2 linked regions of the Homo sapiens genome follow. The protein of the gene in region 1 interacts with the protein of each later gene in a biochemical or structural test. Each region holds a gene or a part of one and is shown on either strand. Other genes may lie near its edges.

What was found. The genes of interacting proteins can lie anywhere in the genome.
Region 2: the proteins of SLC25A3 (region 1) and PTEN form a complex in vitro, tested with the Homo sapiens proteins (2 studies listed by BioGRID).

What each region holds. Positions count from the first base shown.
Region 1 is NC_000012.12:98,589,593-98,596,686, reverse strand, and holds the start of SLC25A3 (solute carrier family 25 member 3 isoform b precursor), read right to left. Parts: upstream 3,002-7,094; 5' UTR 2,947-3,001; exon of another isoform or gene 2,713-2,946; 5' UTR 2,709-2,712; coding exon 2,552-2,708; intron 1,255-2,551; coding exon of another isoform or gene 1,130-1,254; intron 961-1,129; coding exon 839-960; intron 1-838. UniProt on the Homo sapiens protein: Inorganic ion transporter that transports phosphate or copper ions across the mitochondrial inner membrane into the matrix compartment. Mediates proton-coupled symport of phosphate ions necessary for mitochondrial oxidative phosphorylation of ADP to ATP.
Region 2 is NC_000010.11:87,957,625-87,964,650, forward strand, and holds part of PTEN (phosphatidylinositol 3,4,5-trisphosphate 3-phosphatase and dual-specificity protein phosphatase PTEN), read left to right. Parts: intron 1-228; coding exon 229-395; intron 396-3,269; coding exon 3,270-3,494; intron 3,495-7,026. UniProt on the Homo sapiens protein: Dual-specificity protein phosphatase, dephosphorylating tyrosine-, serine- and threonine-phosphorylated proteins.

The DNA of each region.
Region 1 (7,094 bases):
TGTATTCCTAACATATGCTAGTTCTTTAAGTAGCTTATAGCATAAAGTTTTGTGAACACTAAACAAACTAAACACAAGTTAAAAAAAAAAAGCACATAAACTAAATTCACTTCAAGAGACATGCATAACACGTTTTAGCAAAGGTACATTTCATATCCATTACATTAACTAATGGGGGGGGAGGAAAAGCTTATCTATTTCTGCCAGTACTAGAAGGGATGGTATACATCACCTTCCTCTCCCTCCTAATATTTCAAATTCATTTCTCTTTTAGGTAAGTAGACTTCTAATCCAGTTTGGAACAAATAAATTTTCGATGTCTTGTTTTTGTTTCAATGATCTTAATTAAAATATATTCAAATTATTTTAAAATGTTGTGTAAATAAACAAGAGGCTAATCTGACAAAATTTTCATACTAAGATATTAAGAGCACTTTAAATAAATCTACATGTACTCTTTGCCTTGGTCTTATTAGTAGATAAAGGACATTGTTACTTCACATAATACACAGACTTGTTTACCCACTCCAACACATAGGTGCTTGTTAAATGACTATTTGGGGCACTAGTAAGCTTGAAGAACTCCGGCCAGAAGTGAAGAGCAGCAGCAAAGAGCCATTTACAGCCAGACTCTAAAAGTGAACAATTTACTCAAACAATAGAGGCATTTATTGGATTTAAAACACTAGTCAAAATAAAGCCCACAATTTAAAGAAATTCTATGTGGTTTCCTACTGAAGTTTCTAGCAGTTGTGATGTCTTCAAATTCTCATTTAAGATTTTATTTAGAGTTAAGTCACATGAGAGATACTTTCAATGTTGTCATCTCAATACAAACCTGCATACGGCATTTCACTAAATCCAGGGGAACCACAGCAGTGTGTGTCAGACCACAACTTAAGACCCCACCAAAGCCACACAGTGCATAATACTTCGCGGAGCCAAATTCACAACTGTACTCTGTAGTAAGAGAAGACACACCATGCATTTTAATATAAAACTCATGTTACTGGTCATAAACTTACCTCCTGGACAGTTAGGTTTCCACACAGCTTGTTAGATGACTATATCTTATAACTTAACAGTCAGTCATGCTTCAATATGCTCTAGTCCAGCATGCAAAACAAACCTGCATTCTGCATTTAACCAGATCTAGAGGAACCAATGCTGTATGTGTTGTGCCACAGCTAATAATTCCTCCAAGTCCACAAAGGATAAAGAATCTGCCAGATCCATAGTCACAGCTATACTGCTCTGTTTGATTGGAAAAAAAAAAATCAAGTAAGTATTTCTTCAGAGATGACTAAGGCCACTGGAATGAAAGAAAATGTTTCCCTGTGAGATACTATTATCACAGCTGAATAGCTTTGGCCACAATTAAGTGGCTTAAAAAAAAATTCACTGCCAAATTCAGATCATTTAAAAATTATGAGGGTTCTGTATCTGATACTATTAATAGCTCGTATTCTGCCATATTAATTTTTTTAAAAGTTTTCTACATTAACGGCTTTTACAATTAAAGTCAAACTTCAAATTATTAACCACTGGTAAGAGCACACTTCAGAGTACAAACGAAACTCAGAAAGATCACTCGACATGTAAAAGGCTTGCAAACAACTTCAAAGTTTATCCCAGCCACTAACCAATACTATCCCCACTTAAGAACTCCTGTAACATAAAAACGGATACGCACAAATTCCTGCAGTCAAATACATTTAATACACAAATAATGTTAGCTTTAACTTTTAAACTGAACGACAGATAGTGTAAATAAGGACTCTATCCATACTAAAGACAACAGAAGCACATGAATGATTTAAAGAAAAAAATCTTTCGATTTTACAGGCACAAGGTAGATAACATTCTTAGGACTCCTACAATTCGGTTTTCAGGTTTCTCTGTATGTACATACTTCACTAGGATTTAAAACACACACAACTAAGTTAAAGCTGGGCCCAACCACCAAGAATCCCAAGAGATAATCACACCAAAGGGACGCCCACCAATTATCTCCTTTCTATTGCCTATGTAGGGCTGCAAGCTGCCTCCTCCAGTCGCACGAAAACAGGACATCTAGTTATCTCATATACAATTAAGTGCAAAAATGACTGACCTGGCGTCGACAAATATAAAACTTAGGAAAGGACTATTTTTAAGAAAACTAAGGGCAAATCAAAGGACAGGTAATATAGTTAGTAGAACTGTGGGTGGTCAGTAGTTTCGGGAGGAGAGTTTACCCAGTACTTAGTTTGCTGACCAAGCGAGCTCACGGCGGAGAAAGAGCTAGTCACGGCCTCTCTTCCCTCGGGCACACGGAGGTCACGAAGGGACACAGGGCCTCAGCGCTTCCACGCCCTTGAGGGAAGGCCAAGGATCTGACACCCGCCTATGGTGGAAAAGGCCGATACCCCAGGGCAAGCAACTGGGCGCCGTCCTACGGTGCAGCGGGCTGGACTCGTCCTTCCCTGTCCTCCAAGCCGGGTCCAGGCCTCAAAGGCTGGGCGGCCCACAAGTAGACCACACGACTGTATTGGGCAGGGTCTGATCTCACCTTCCACGGCGGCGGCTGCCAGGTTGCGAGGGCGGCGGGGCTGGCCCGTGGGCCCTGGGGAGCTGCTGCGGAGGTCCCCGAGACCATCGTGCACCAGCTGCAGATGTGGCGTGTTGAAGGGGTTCGCCCGCGCCAGGTGCGCCACGGACGAGAACATCTTTCTAGGGGAGGAGGGAGCGACGGTTAGAGGACAGGCAAGGCGCCGGTTAACGTTACCGGCGCCCTGGAACCCCAACCGGGGCCTTTTCCTTCCCGTCTCCACGCCCTTGAAGAGGTCACGGCGGCCTTCGAAAGAGGCTGCTCCCGGCTGGGCCCACCGCCAAAGCAGCGGCCCCACAGGAGCTCTGGGCTCCGCTCCCCACACCCGCCACAGGAGAAGGCCCGGCCACACTCACTCCCTAAGATGGCGATCACACAACCACTCCCTTGGAAAGGTTGCGGCTCACAGAGGCCGGACGTCCTCCGGGTCCTAAGATGTGTGCCCTTCGCGCGTCGTCGGCGTGACGCACACAGCGCGCCACTGCAAGTACGCGTCGCCCATTGGTGGAGAAGAGCGCCGAGCCCGTAGCGTCATCGCGTTCTCCTAGCAACCTTATTCCCGCCCCTGCCCGCCCCAGCTCTTCCGCCCGGCTTGTGCGCGGGAGGATTCGTTCTGCGCAGGCGCGCGTTCCGGGTCTATATTTTTTGAGAGGGGTCGGGCTCGAGCTCTTACCCTGCTCGCTTTGTCCCTTCACCTTCAGGTGTCTCTCCTTGACCACGGGCTTCAGTTCGCTTCACTTAAGTGAATCACAGTATCTAGTAGTCACTTAAAAAACAAAACAAAACGCGAATGCTTGATAATATATTTAGGTGTTGGAGTTACAACATCACTGCAGTACTTTGTGTCACAACTTCTGCCATTACAGTACTTTTTAAAATAAGTTCCATCCATTGACATTAAACATAGGTATGTCTGTATTTTTCATCAGACTCCTGGAGAATATTTTAAAAAGAAATGTGCAGCAAGAAGTCTTACGACAGCTTGCCGCGTTATCACAGTAATCTACAGAACACGTTGAAACATTGAACTCCTGAGATGTTACAGCGATGAACTACTGAAAGTGACTGATAGCAGATTGTGCGTGTGTGTGGTTAATACATTTAGGAAGCTTTCATTAGATTCAGCTCAACAGGGAGGGGCGTAGTTTAGTTGGGGAGAGTTTAATAGGGATTCAACCTGTTAGACTTCTGACTCTTATATTTTCCAAGCTCTTGACAAAGTAACCTTGGGAATTTACTTCATCTCTGTGTACCTGTTCCCTAGATGTAAGATAGGGGTGGGACTGGCCTCATAGGTTCACACTGGTACAGTCACACATGGCCTTACACTTCATTTAATGCTCTGCTGTCATTTTGATTTTTTTTTTTTTTCTTTTGAGATGGAGTCTTGCTCTGTCGCCCAGGCTGGAGTGCAGTGGGGCGATCTCAGCTCACCGCAACCTCCGCCTCCCGGGTTCAAGCGATTCTCCTGTCTCAGCCCCCGGAGTAGCTGGGACTACAGGCGTGCACAACCACGCCCGGCTAAGTTTTCTATTTTTAGTAGAGACAGAGTTTCGTCACGTTGGCCAGTCTGGTCTCGAACTCCTGAGCTCAGGTGATCCGCCCACCTCGGCCTCCCAATGTGCTGGGATTACAGGCCTGAGCCACCATGCCCGGCTTGAAATTCTTAATACATGTATGAACAAGGGGCCACGCTTTTTTTAGTTTGCACTGGACCCTGCAAATCAGGTGTCTGGTTCTGGATGGGAGTAATACTTACCTTGCAGAGTCTATGAGAACTCAATGAGATAATGTCTAAAAGTCTACAGAAGATGTTACCTAAAAAAAGTTAGCATTGGCCGGGCGAGGTGGCTCACGCCTGTAATCCCAGCACTTTGGGAGGCCGAGGCGGGCAGATCACGGGGTCAGGAGATCGAGACCATCCTGGCTAACACGGTGAAACCCCGTCTCTACTAAAAATACAAAAAATTAGCCGGGCGAGGTGGCGGGCGCCTGTAGTCCCAGCTACTGAGGAGACTGAGGCAGGAGAATGGCGTGAACCCAGGAGGCAGAGCTTGCAGTGAGCCGAGATCATGCCACTGCACTCCAGCCTGGGCGACAGAGCAAGACTCCGTCTCAAAAAAAAAAAAAAACAAAAAAACAAAAGTTAGCATTGAGGCTGCGGCATCACGGCACTCTCTAAGCAACCCTATCCCAGACCCAGCCCTTCTGGCCCAACTAAAGTCCTACAGTCCCAGGAAGAATTCCAGAGTGGAGGGCACAGGAAGGGAAGTAGTGACAGATAAAGTTAAAAAAGTACACTAGCACCTGATTGTCCAGGGCCTCACATACCAGACTGAGGAGTCTGATCTTATGTAGACAGAGGTAGTCACTGAAGGGTCTGGACTTTCTCTCTCTCTTTTTTGGTTAATTCAACTTTATGGTGCTTTTCTAATTTAAAAATCCTTTGTCATGAAAAAGTCAAATATTATGTAAAAATATATGACTGTAGTGAATCTTCCTATTCCCTTCCCCCAGCACCGGGTAATACCGTGACCCTTTGCTGCACATTTTTTCAGCTGGAACAGCTGGTACCCTTCACCATGGGGCTGCACATGCTCGTGGCCCAGAACTCACAGAAGTTGATCTAGAAGATACAGTGGTAACTGAAGGAGCTGCAGGCCCAGCTCCTACCCCATGTGGGAGCTGGTGACCTTCAGAATGTAATGACTGTTGCTCCACTTCTGCCTTCCAAACTGCACACATTTCTCTTATAGCTAGCCCTAACCCAAAACTATGCAGGGAAAGGAATCTAGGAAATGTGGTTCTAGCCTAGCTAAGTTGACATGGTAAAAAAAACACCACTGGGCTTTGCAGGCACCGCTGCTGCCAGGAGCCCTGTGCTATCAGCCATGGTCAACCCCACCGTGTTCTTTGACACGGAGCCCTTGGGCCGCATCTCCTTTGAGCTGTTTGCAGACAAGTTTCCAAAGACAGCAGGAAACTTTCATGCTCTGAGCACTGGAGAGAAAGGATTTGGCTATAAGGGTTCCTGCTTTCACAGAATTGTTCCAGGGTTTATGTGTCAGGGTGGAGACTTCACATGCCATGATGGCACTGGTGGCAAGTCCATCTACAGGGAGAAATTTGATGACAAGAACTTCATCCGGAAGCATACAGTTTCTGGCATCTTGTCCATGGCAAATGCTGGACCCAACGCAAACAGTTCCCAGTTTTTCATCTGTGCTGCCAAGACTGAGTGGTTGGATGGCAAGCATGTGGTCTTCAGCAAGGTGAAAGAAGGCATGAATATTGTGGAGACCATGGAGTGCTTTGGGTCCAGGAATGGCAAGACCAGTAAGAAGATCACCATTGCTGACTGTGGGCAACTCTAATAAGTTTGACTTGTGTTTTATCTTAACCACCAGACCATTCCTTCTGTAGCTCAGGAGAGCACCCTCCACCCCATTTGCTCGCAGTATCCTAGAATCTTTGTGCTCTCACTGCAGTTCCCTTTGGGTTCTATGTTTTCCTTGTTCCTTTCCATGCCTAGCTAGATTGCAGAGTTAAGTTTATGATTATGAAATAAAAACTAATTAACAACAGCAACAAAAAAAGTACCAGAGTCTATCGGTTGTCAACATGGCATCAATGAACACCTCTTGTAATCATATTTAACTTCCAGACAAAAACTAAAGAGCAAAATCAGACTTCTACCTAACATGAAGCAGCTGTCCCTTGGACAATTGTGAACAAGCTAATTCTACCCAAAAGAGGATACAAAATCCTTTTATCCGTCTTTAGGTGATGTTATTGCAGCAGGTATGGACTAAGACAAGGGGGTTGGCCTCCTTAACATTCAAGAGGCTCTCGGCCTCCAACCTGACACAAGTAGGGAAATTGCCTGAAGGACCATAACTCTCCACTGTGGAGATTCAAATCTGCCTCCCGGGTTCAAGCAATTCTCCTGCCTCAGCCTCCGGAGTAGCTGGGATTACAGGCACGCGCCACCATGCCCGGCTAATTTTGTATTTTTAGTAGAGATGGGGTTTCTCCATGTTGGTCAGTCTGGTCTCGAACTCCCAACCTCAGGTGATCCACCTGCCTCGGCCTCCCAAAGTGGACAGTAGGTTTTAAGAAGAATCAGCAGATCCCGCCAGGCAACCACCTCAGGTGAGGCCATTACAGATTTCACAGGGACGAGGAACATAACCTCCTCAGACAGGAGAGGAAGGGCTTCTTTGACTGACAAGGAGGCTCAACAGAATTTAGGGGTTCTGGCTGGGCATGGTGGCTCACGCCTATAATCCCAGAACTTTGGGAAGCCGAGGTAGGTGGATCTCTTGAGTCCAGGAGTTAAAAACCAGCCTGGACAACATGGTGAAACCCTGTCTCTTAAAAAAAAAAAAAAAAAAAAGCCAGGCATAGTGGCATGCCCCTGCAGTCCCAGCTACGCAAGAGGCTGAGGAGGGAGGATCACTTGAGCCTGGGAAGCAGAGGTAGCAGTGAGCCGAGATCGCGCCAT
Region 2 (7,026 bases), on another chromosome or scaffold:
TTATATAAGTAATAGGACCTTATTTTGAAGGTTCAAACTGGAGAAAATCTTACATTGTTTATATTTTTATTTCATTTATTTCAGTTGATTTGCTTGAGATCAAGATTGCAGATACAGAATCCATATTTCGTGTATATTGCTGATATTAATCATTAAAATCGTTTTTGACAGTTTGACAGTTAAAGGCATTTCCTGTGAAATAATACTGGTATGTATTTAACCATGCAGATCCTCAGTTTGTGGTCTGCCAGCTAAAGGTGAAGATATATTCCTCCAATTCAGGACCCACACGACGGGAAGACAAGTTCATGTACTTTGAGTTCCCTCAGCCGTTACCTGTGTGTGGTGATATCAAAGTAGAGTTCTTCCACAAACAGAACAAGATGCTAAAAAAGGTTTGTACTTTACTTTCATTGGGAGAAATATCCAAAATAAGGACAGATTAAAAGCTATATTTTATTTTATGACATGTAAGGAACTATAATTTGTTTTCTATTAGATCTGCAGGTGTTTTGCTTACTCTGGCATTGGTGAGACATTATAAGGGTAAATAATCCTGTTTGAAGGAAAAGGCCTTATGGCATTGTAACATGAGAGGAATTTTTCTTAACAAGGATGGTTAACTGAGAAGAAATTAGCATGGGACCAATATTTTAAAAATTTTGGTCTATAGGTAGAAATGAGATCTGTTCTGTGGTCTTATGTAGTGACACAAACCACTTTTTCTCCATTTTGGCTTATGTTTCTTTTTCTTTCCTTTTTTTTTTTTTTCCTTTTTGTTAGAGACAGGGTCTTGTTCTATTGCCCAGGCTGAGTAGCTAAGACTACAAGCATGTGCCACCACACCCAGCTAATTTTTTTTATTTTTATTTTTGTAGGGACAGGGTCTCACTATGTTGCCCAGGCTGGTCTCAAACTCCTGGGCACAAGCAGTCCTCACGCTTTGGCATCCCAAAGAGTTGGAATTACAGGTGTGCGCCATCATGCCTGGCCTTAACGTTTCTTAAGACTTGATTATTTTCTATTTAGCTTCTGTGGATTTACTGATTAATTTTTTAACTAGGAGAGAAATCAGTATGAAGAGGAAGTAATAAAGAATGAAAACATGGTATTTAAATGTGCAGGTTTAGAAAGTTAATGAAGTTTGAATTTGATTGATCTGTATTTAGAGAAGGCAACGTCTTATTATTTTAAAACCAACTATCCGCCCTGTGCGGTGGCTCACGCCTGTAATTCCAGCACTTTGGGAGGCTGAGGTGGGCAGATCAGCTGAGGTCAGGAGTTCGAGACCAGCCTGGCCAACATGGTTAAACCCCATCTCTACTAAAAATACAAAAAAATTAGCCGGGTGTGGTGGCAGGCGCCTGTTTTCCCAGCTACTCAGGAGGCTTGAGGCAGGATAATTGCTGAACCCGAGAGGCGGAGGTTGCAGTAAGCCAAGAATGCACCATTGTACTCCAGCCTGGGCAACAAGAGTGAAACTCCATCTCAAAAAAAAAGAAAAAAAAAACAACAACTATCTTCATTTAAAATATTAAATGTGAATATTTAAAGTGAGACTAAGGTGCAACATTTTTAGATAGTAATGAAGAAAAGGACTAACTTTGTAGTGTTGCTGCCTTGTTAAACATACTAGATAGCATATTGCCAATCTTTAAACATTCTCAATGATAGGATTTATTTACTTTTTCTGATTTTTAGCTTTTCTTTTGAAAGAAAATAAGAGGAAGTTTCATTTACTGCAAAATTTTAAATGCTGCTTTGATGTATCAGTAGAGATATAATTTTCCTTTATCCAGAATCCAAGTAGCTGGAAAAAAAAATCAAAATATGCTGAACTTTTTTTTTTTTAGCCAGAAACCCATTTCCTATCGTCTGTACAAATAAAAGTTAAATATATCTCAATAACTTAGAAAAATTATTTTTTGATAATCCAGGAAGTATTAGCAACTGTTTTAAAATTAAGATAACTAGTAAGTTTTATTTAGCTTTCAAAAATAGGCATCTACATCATCATCTCTGCATACCTTTAGGAATTTCCTAATTCTTATTTCCCTTCATCTGTACTTTAACACATGCAAAATTGAAGGTTAGATTAAATATTTATGATTTATTTGTTTATCCTTGACTACATAAATTTCCATTTTATTGATTTTCCCTGCCTTATTTAAGAATATGCTATGATTAAAACACAAAAAATTTTAGTATAACCCATATATATATAGAATTCACCTTTTTGTTATTTAAATATTATTGGCTTATTTTCTTCTAAGTAAAATACAATTACTGGCTAAAATAATTGAAATAAGCAAAAAAAAAATTTTAAAGACCTTGTATACAAGATTACTTTGCCAGGTACTGTTAAAAGATGCAATGACATTTAAGACGTAACATCCTTAAGGATCTTATTTTCTGGGGGATAAAAAACTTTAAGATAAATTAGAATAAAAGATTTAAATGGCATTTTAAGGTACCAGGTACCAGATAAGATGTCACAAGGCTGTATATCATTAATTGCCAAATGATTTATACAGGCCAGATTTCTTTGTTGGTCAATAGAGGTTTAAAGTGATGAACTTCTGTTGTGTTTTTTTATTAAGAAGGTATTATCTTATTAGTAAGAAGTGATTTTTTTTAAGAACAAGCATTTTATAACATCAAAAGAAATCAGTAGTACTCTTTCCTACCCCCTCATATTTATTCTGAAAGTATTCAAGCATTATATTGTCATGTAAGAAACTGGAGCTTCTCATGTTTGTATTGCTGTAGAAGTAAACATGTATTTGCCATGCGTCATCAGGGAAGTTGCACTCACCGTCCAAGAACTTTTGTTAAAGTAAATCTTGGAATAGGTAGCTCATTTGAAATGTAGAAAAAATTAAATCCATATCTGAATTTTGTTTATATGTATGTACACGTAAACTAAAAACGTATTTAAAGCTAGTATTAGATGAGAAAAGAGGTTTTTTTACTTAAAATTTTAAGGCAAAAGTAGTTTATCTTAGATCTTGTGAGATTGTATTTTTGGTTTAAAATTTGAGAATTTGAGTGAAGAAAAATCATGTGAATGAAAATGCAACAGATAACTCAGATTGCCTTATAATAGTCTTTGTGTTTACCTTTATTCAGAATATCAAATGATAGTTTATTTTGTTGACTTTTTGCAAATGTTTAACATAGGTGACAGATTTTCTTTTTTAAAAAAATAAAACATCATTAATTAAATATGTCATTTCATTTCTTTTTCTTTTCTTTTTTTTTTTTTTTAGGACAAAATGTTTCACTTTTGGGTAAATACATTCTTCATACCAGGACCAGAGGAAACCTCAGAAAAAGTAGAAAATGGAAGTCTATGTGATCAAGAAATCGATAGCATTTGCAGTATAGAGCGTGCAGATAATGACAAGGAATATCTAGTACTTACTTTAACAAAAAATGATCTTGACAAAGCAAATAAAGACAAAGCCAACCGATACTTTTCTCCAAATTTTAAGGTCAGTTAAATTAAACATTTTGTGGGGGTTGTTGACTTGTATGTATGTGATGTGTGTTTAATTCTAGGAGTACAGCTGATGAAGAACTTGCTTGACAAGTTTTTAACTTATGTATTATTTCGAAGCAGTGTTTACGTAGCAGTAACATGAAAGTTTCTAATAAAATACCCAATGTACACAGCGTCAAAAAAGCTGCATTTTTCCTTTTCCTAATTCTTCGTTGTTTGCTGAAATCTGGGGCAAAGGTGCGGGAGGGGGCTAAATGACTGGGATATGAAGTAGGAATGGGAGAGGAAAGAAATAGATGGGAACTCAGTCATTTGGGAATGATTCATATGGAATGTTTTTACTGCTTCCACTCCTGTCTGCCTTCCAATTTATTCTCAATCCCTCAGAGTGATCTTAAAAATAGACTTGATTGTGTCACTTCTGTTTACACTTTATAAGGACCTTGTGTTTTTTTTTTTACCATGACCTACAAGGCCCAGCATAATTTAGCACAGGGCTACCTCCTACATCAGCACTAGTCACCTTCTCTCCTTGTTTCTTGAGATTCAGTCATACTGGTCTTTCTTCAGTTCTTCAAAATGCTAAGCTTCTGCCTCTTCTAGTCTTTCCAGTTATTTTCCTTCTCCCTGTACCTTTTCATCTCAGCCTTTTCCCCTGACCTTCCATAGCTATCTTCATATTTCCAGCCTTAGCTTCAATCTCATATTCTCTGAAGTCCTTTGATTGTCCTCCCGTTATTCTTTTTTTAAAAATCCTATTTCCTTATATTGTATCTTAGAATTATTTGGTTTGTTTCATTTTTGCCTATGTGTGATATATGTATTTCTACATAGGTATATATATCTACTTATAGACAAGAATTCTTCAGATTAAAAAAATCTGATTTGTAAACATTCCCAAGTGGTTGTTTACCATTTTTTTCTTCCCCCTTCCTATTTCTTATTCTACCTGATTTTCCCCTGTTCATTCACCACACTCGTTTCTTTCTCTTTTTTACTCTCTCTTAATTTTTCATTCAATTTTTATAACATGTAATAAATCTAACTGTAGCGTCTGAGTATTAAGAATATTGCTAGTAATACTTCACCTGTAATCCCAGCACTTTGGGAGGCTAAGGCAGGCGGATCACTTGAGGCCCAGGAGTTTAAGACCAGCCGGCCAATATGGCGAAACCCTATCTGCACTACAAATACAAAAATTAGCTGGGCATGGTGTCGCACACCTGTAATCCCAGCTACTTGGGAGGCTGAGGCACAAGAATTGCTTGAGCCTGTGAGATGGAGGTTGCAGTGAGCCGAGATCACACCAGTGCACGTGCACTTCAGCCTGGGCAACAGAGCAAGACTCTGTCTTAAAAAAAAAAAAAAAAAAAAAATATATACACACACACACACACACACACACACACACACACACTATTACTACCAATATACATACATATATGTATGTATGTATGTATGTATATTGGTAGTAATAGTAATACTTGGGCCCCTGCACGTTTTAAGTGAAAATAGATCTAATATTAAATGTCTTTAGCCCTTAAATTTTTTTTAAGTGTTCAGAAGTTTCCCTTTAAAAAAATTTTTAATATATAATAATTGTACATATTTATGGGATACAGAGTGATATTTTCATGTATGCAGTGTGTGATGATCAAATCAGGATAATTAGCATATGGATCACCTCAAACATTTGTCATTTCTTTGTGTTAGGAACATTCAAAATTCTGTCTTCTAGCTATTTGAAAATATACAGTAAATTATTGTTGACTAGTTACAGTTCTATAGAACACTATAATTTATTCCTCCTGTGTGTAATTTTTTATCTTTTAACCAACATCTCCCTATCCTCCCCTCCCACTCCCTTTCCCGGCCTCTAATAACCACACTCTTATGAGCTCAACTTTTTTAGCTTCCATATATGAGTGAGAACATACGGTATTTATCTTTCTGTACCTGACTTATTTTACTTAACATCATGTCCTCCGGGCTAGACATTCTCTTTAGAATCCACAGGTTTCCTTTCTTTTCTCTAAATCTGCATTTTGCTCAGCCATTAACTTTTAAAATGTCTTTTTCCCTTTAGTTTTATTGTTTTCTATTTTAATATTGCAAGATGTTTTATATTTGTGATTACAAATAAAAACTCCATTATTAGTAAACAAATACAATGTCATATAGTAGTAAGTGCTATAAAAAATAGACAGGATAGAAAGTAATCTTGGTTTGTATGTTTTTTGTTTTTTAGCAAAGATGATTAGAGAAGGCCCAACCAAGCAGATAACATTTAAGCAGAGGCCTAAATCATATAAGTGAGTTATACAAATATCTGGGAAAAGAGTTAAGAGTACAGATGCAAAAGCCCTTAGACAAGAGAATGAGCTTGGTATATCTGAAGAGTGGATAAGTCATTTTGACTGAAACAGAGTGGACAAGAAAACCAGTCCAAGTGTAAAGACACTAGTGTGTGTTCAGCATAGGAAGGATGTAATCTGAATTTTGTGTTTAATATTCCCTGTGTTCATGCTTTCAAAATACAGATGAGTGAGGAAAGTAGGGAGAAGGGGTAATAAAGGAAGCTGAGAGATCAGTTAAGAGGTACTTGAATAGTTTAGTAAAGATGAGAGAAGATGTTTGCTTCTTGTTGCCCCTCACTGCTTAGAATAGTGGCAGTGAAGGGTAACAAGAAGCTGTCAGATTAACTTAAAGAGTTTACTGATGCAGTGGATGTTGGTTGTAAGAGAAGAATTGATAATGACTCTTGGATAATAGGGGAGGGAGGGGCTGTCAATATAATATAATGAAGAAGGGATTTGAAGTCATTTCTGATTTAAATCTCACATCCACTACCTACTTTTAATAGATATGTAGCCTTTAACAAGTTCCCTAACCTTTCTGGGCCTTAGCTACCTCCCCTTGGAAATGGAAATACCTAACATGTAAGGTTGTTTTGACAGTTATTTTCACTAGGCATGTAAAGGCACTTGACTCTCTGTTATAGACCACTGTATTATGTTAATGTCCCTCTCCTTCCTCCCTTTAGGTAAAGTTTTTAGGGCTAATAAATCCCAAATATCAATGTTGATCAGTAGTTTGTGTTTGTGTAGTGTTGTTTATATCAAAAACTACATTGAAGCCGGGCACAGTGGTTCACGCCTAAAATCGCAACACTTTGGGAGGCCAAGGTGGGCCTCCCACCTTGAACTAAGGAGTTTGAGACCAGCCTGGGCAACATGGTGAAATCCCATCTCTACAAAAAATATAAAAGCTAGCTGGGTGTGGTGGCATGCACCTGTAGTCCTAGCTACTTGGGAGGCTGAGGTTGATCCTGGGAGTTTGAGCCTGCAGTGAGCTGTGAAGATGCCACTGCACTCTAGTCTGGGTGACAGAGCAAGACCCTGTCTCAAAAACACACACACACACACACACACACACAAAGAAATACATTGATTTTTCACATAGGTAGTAAGAGAAACATTCTTTTTGAACTCAGCTGTTTGTGAATTGAATTTTGTAATTCAAAT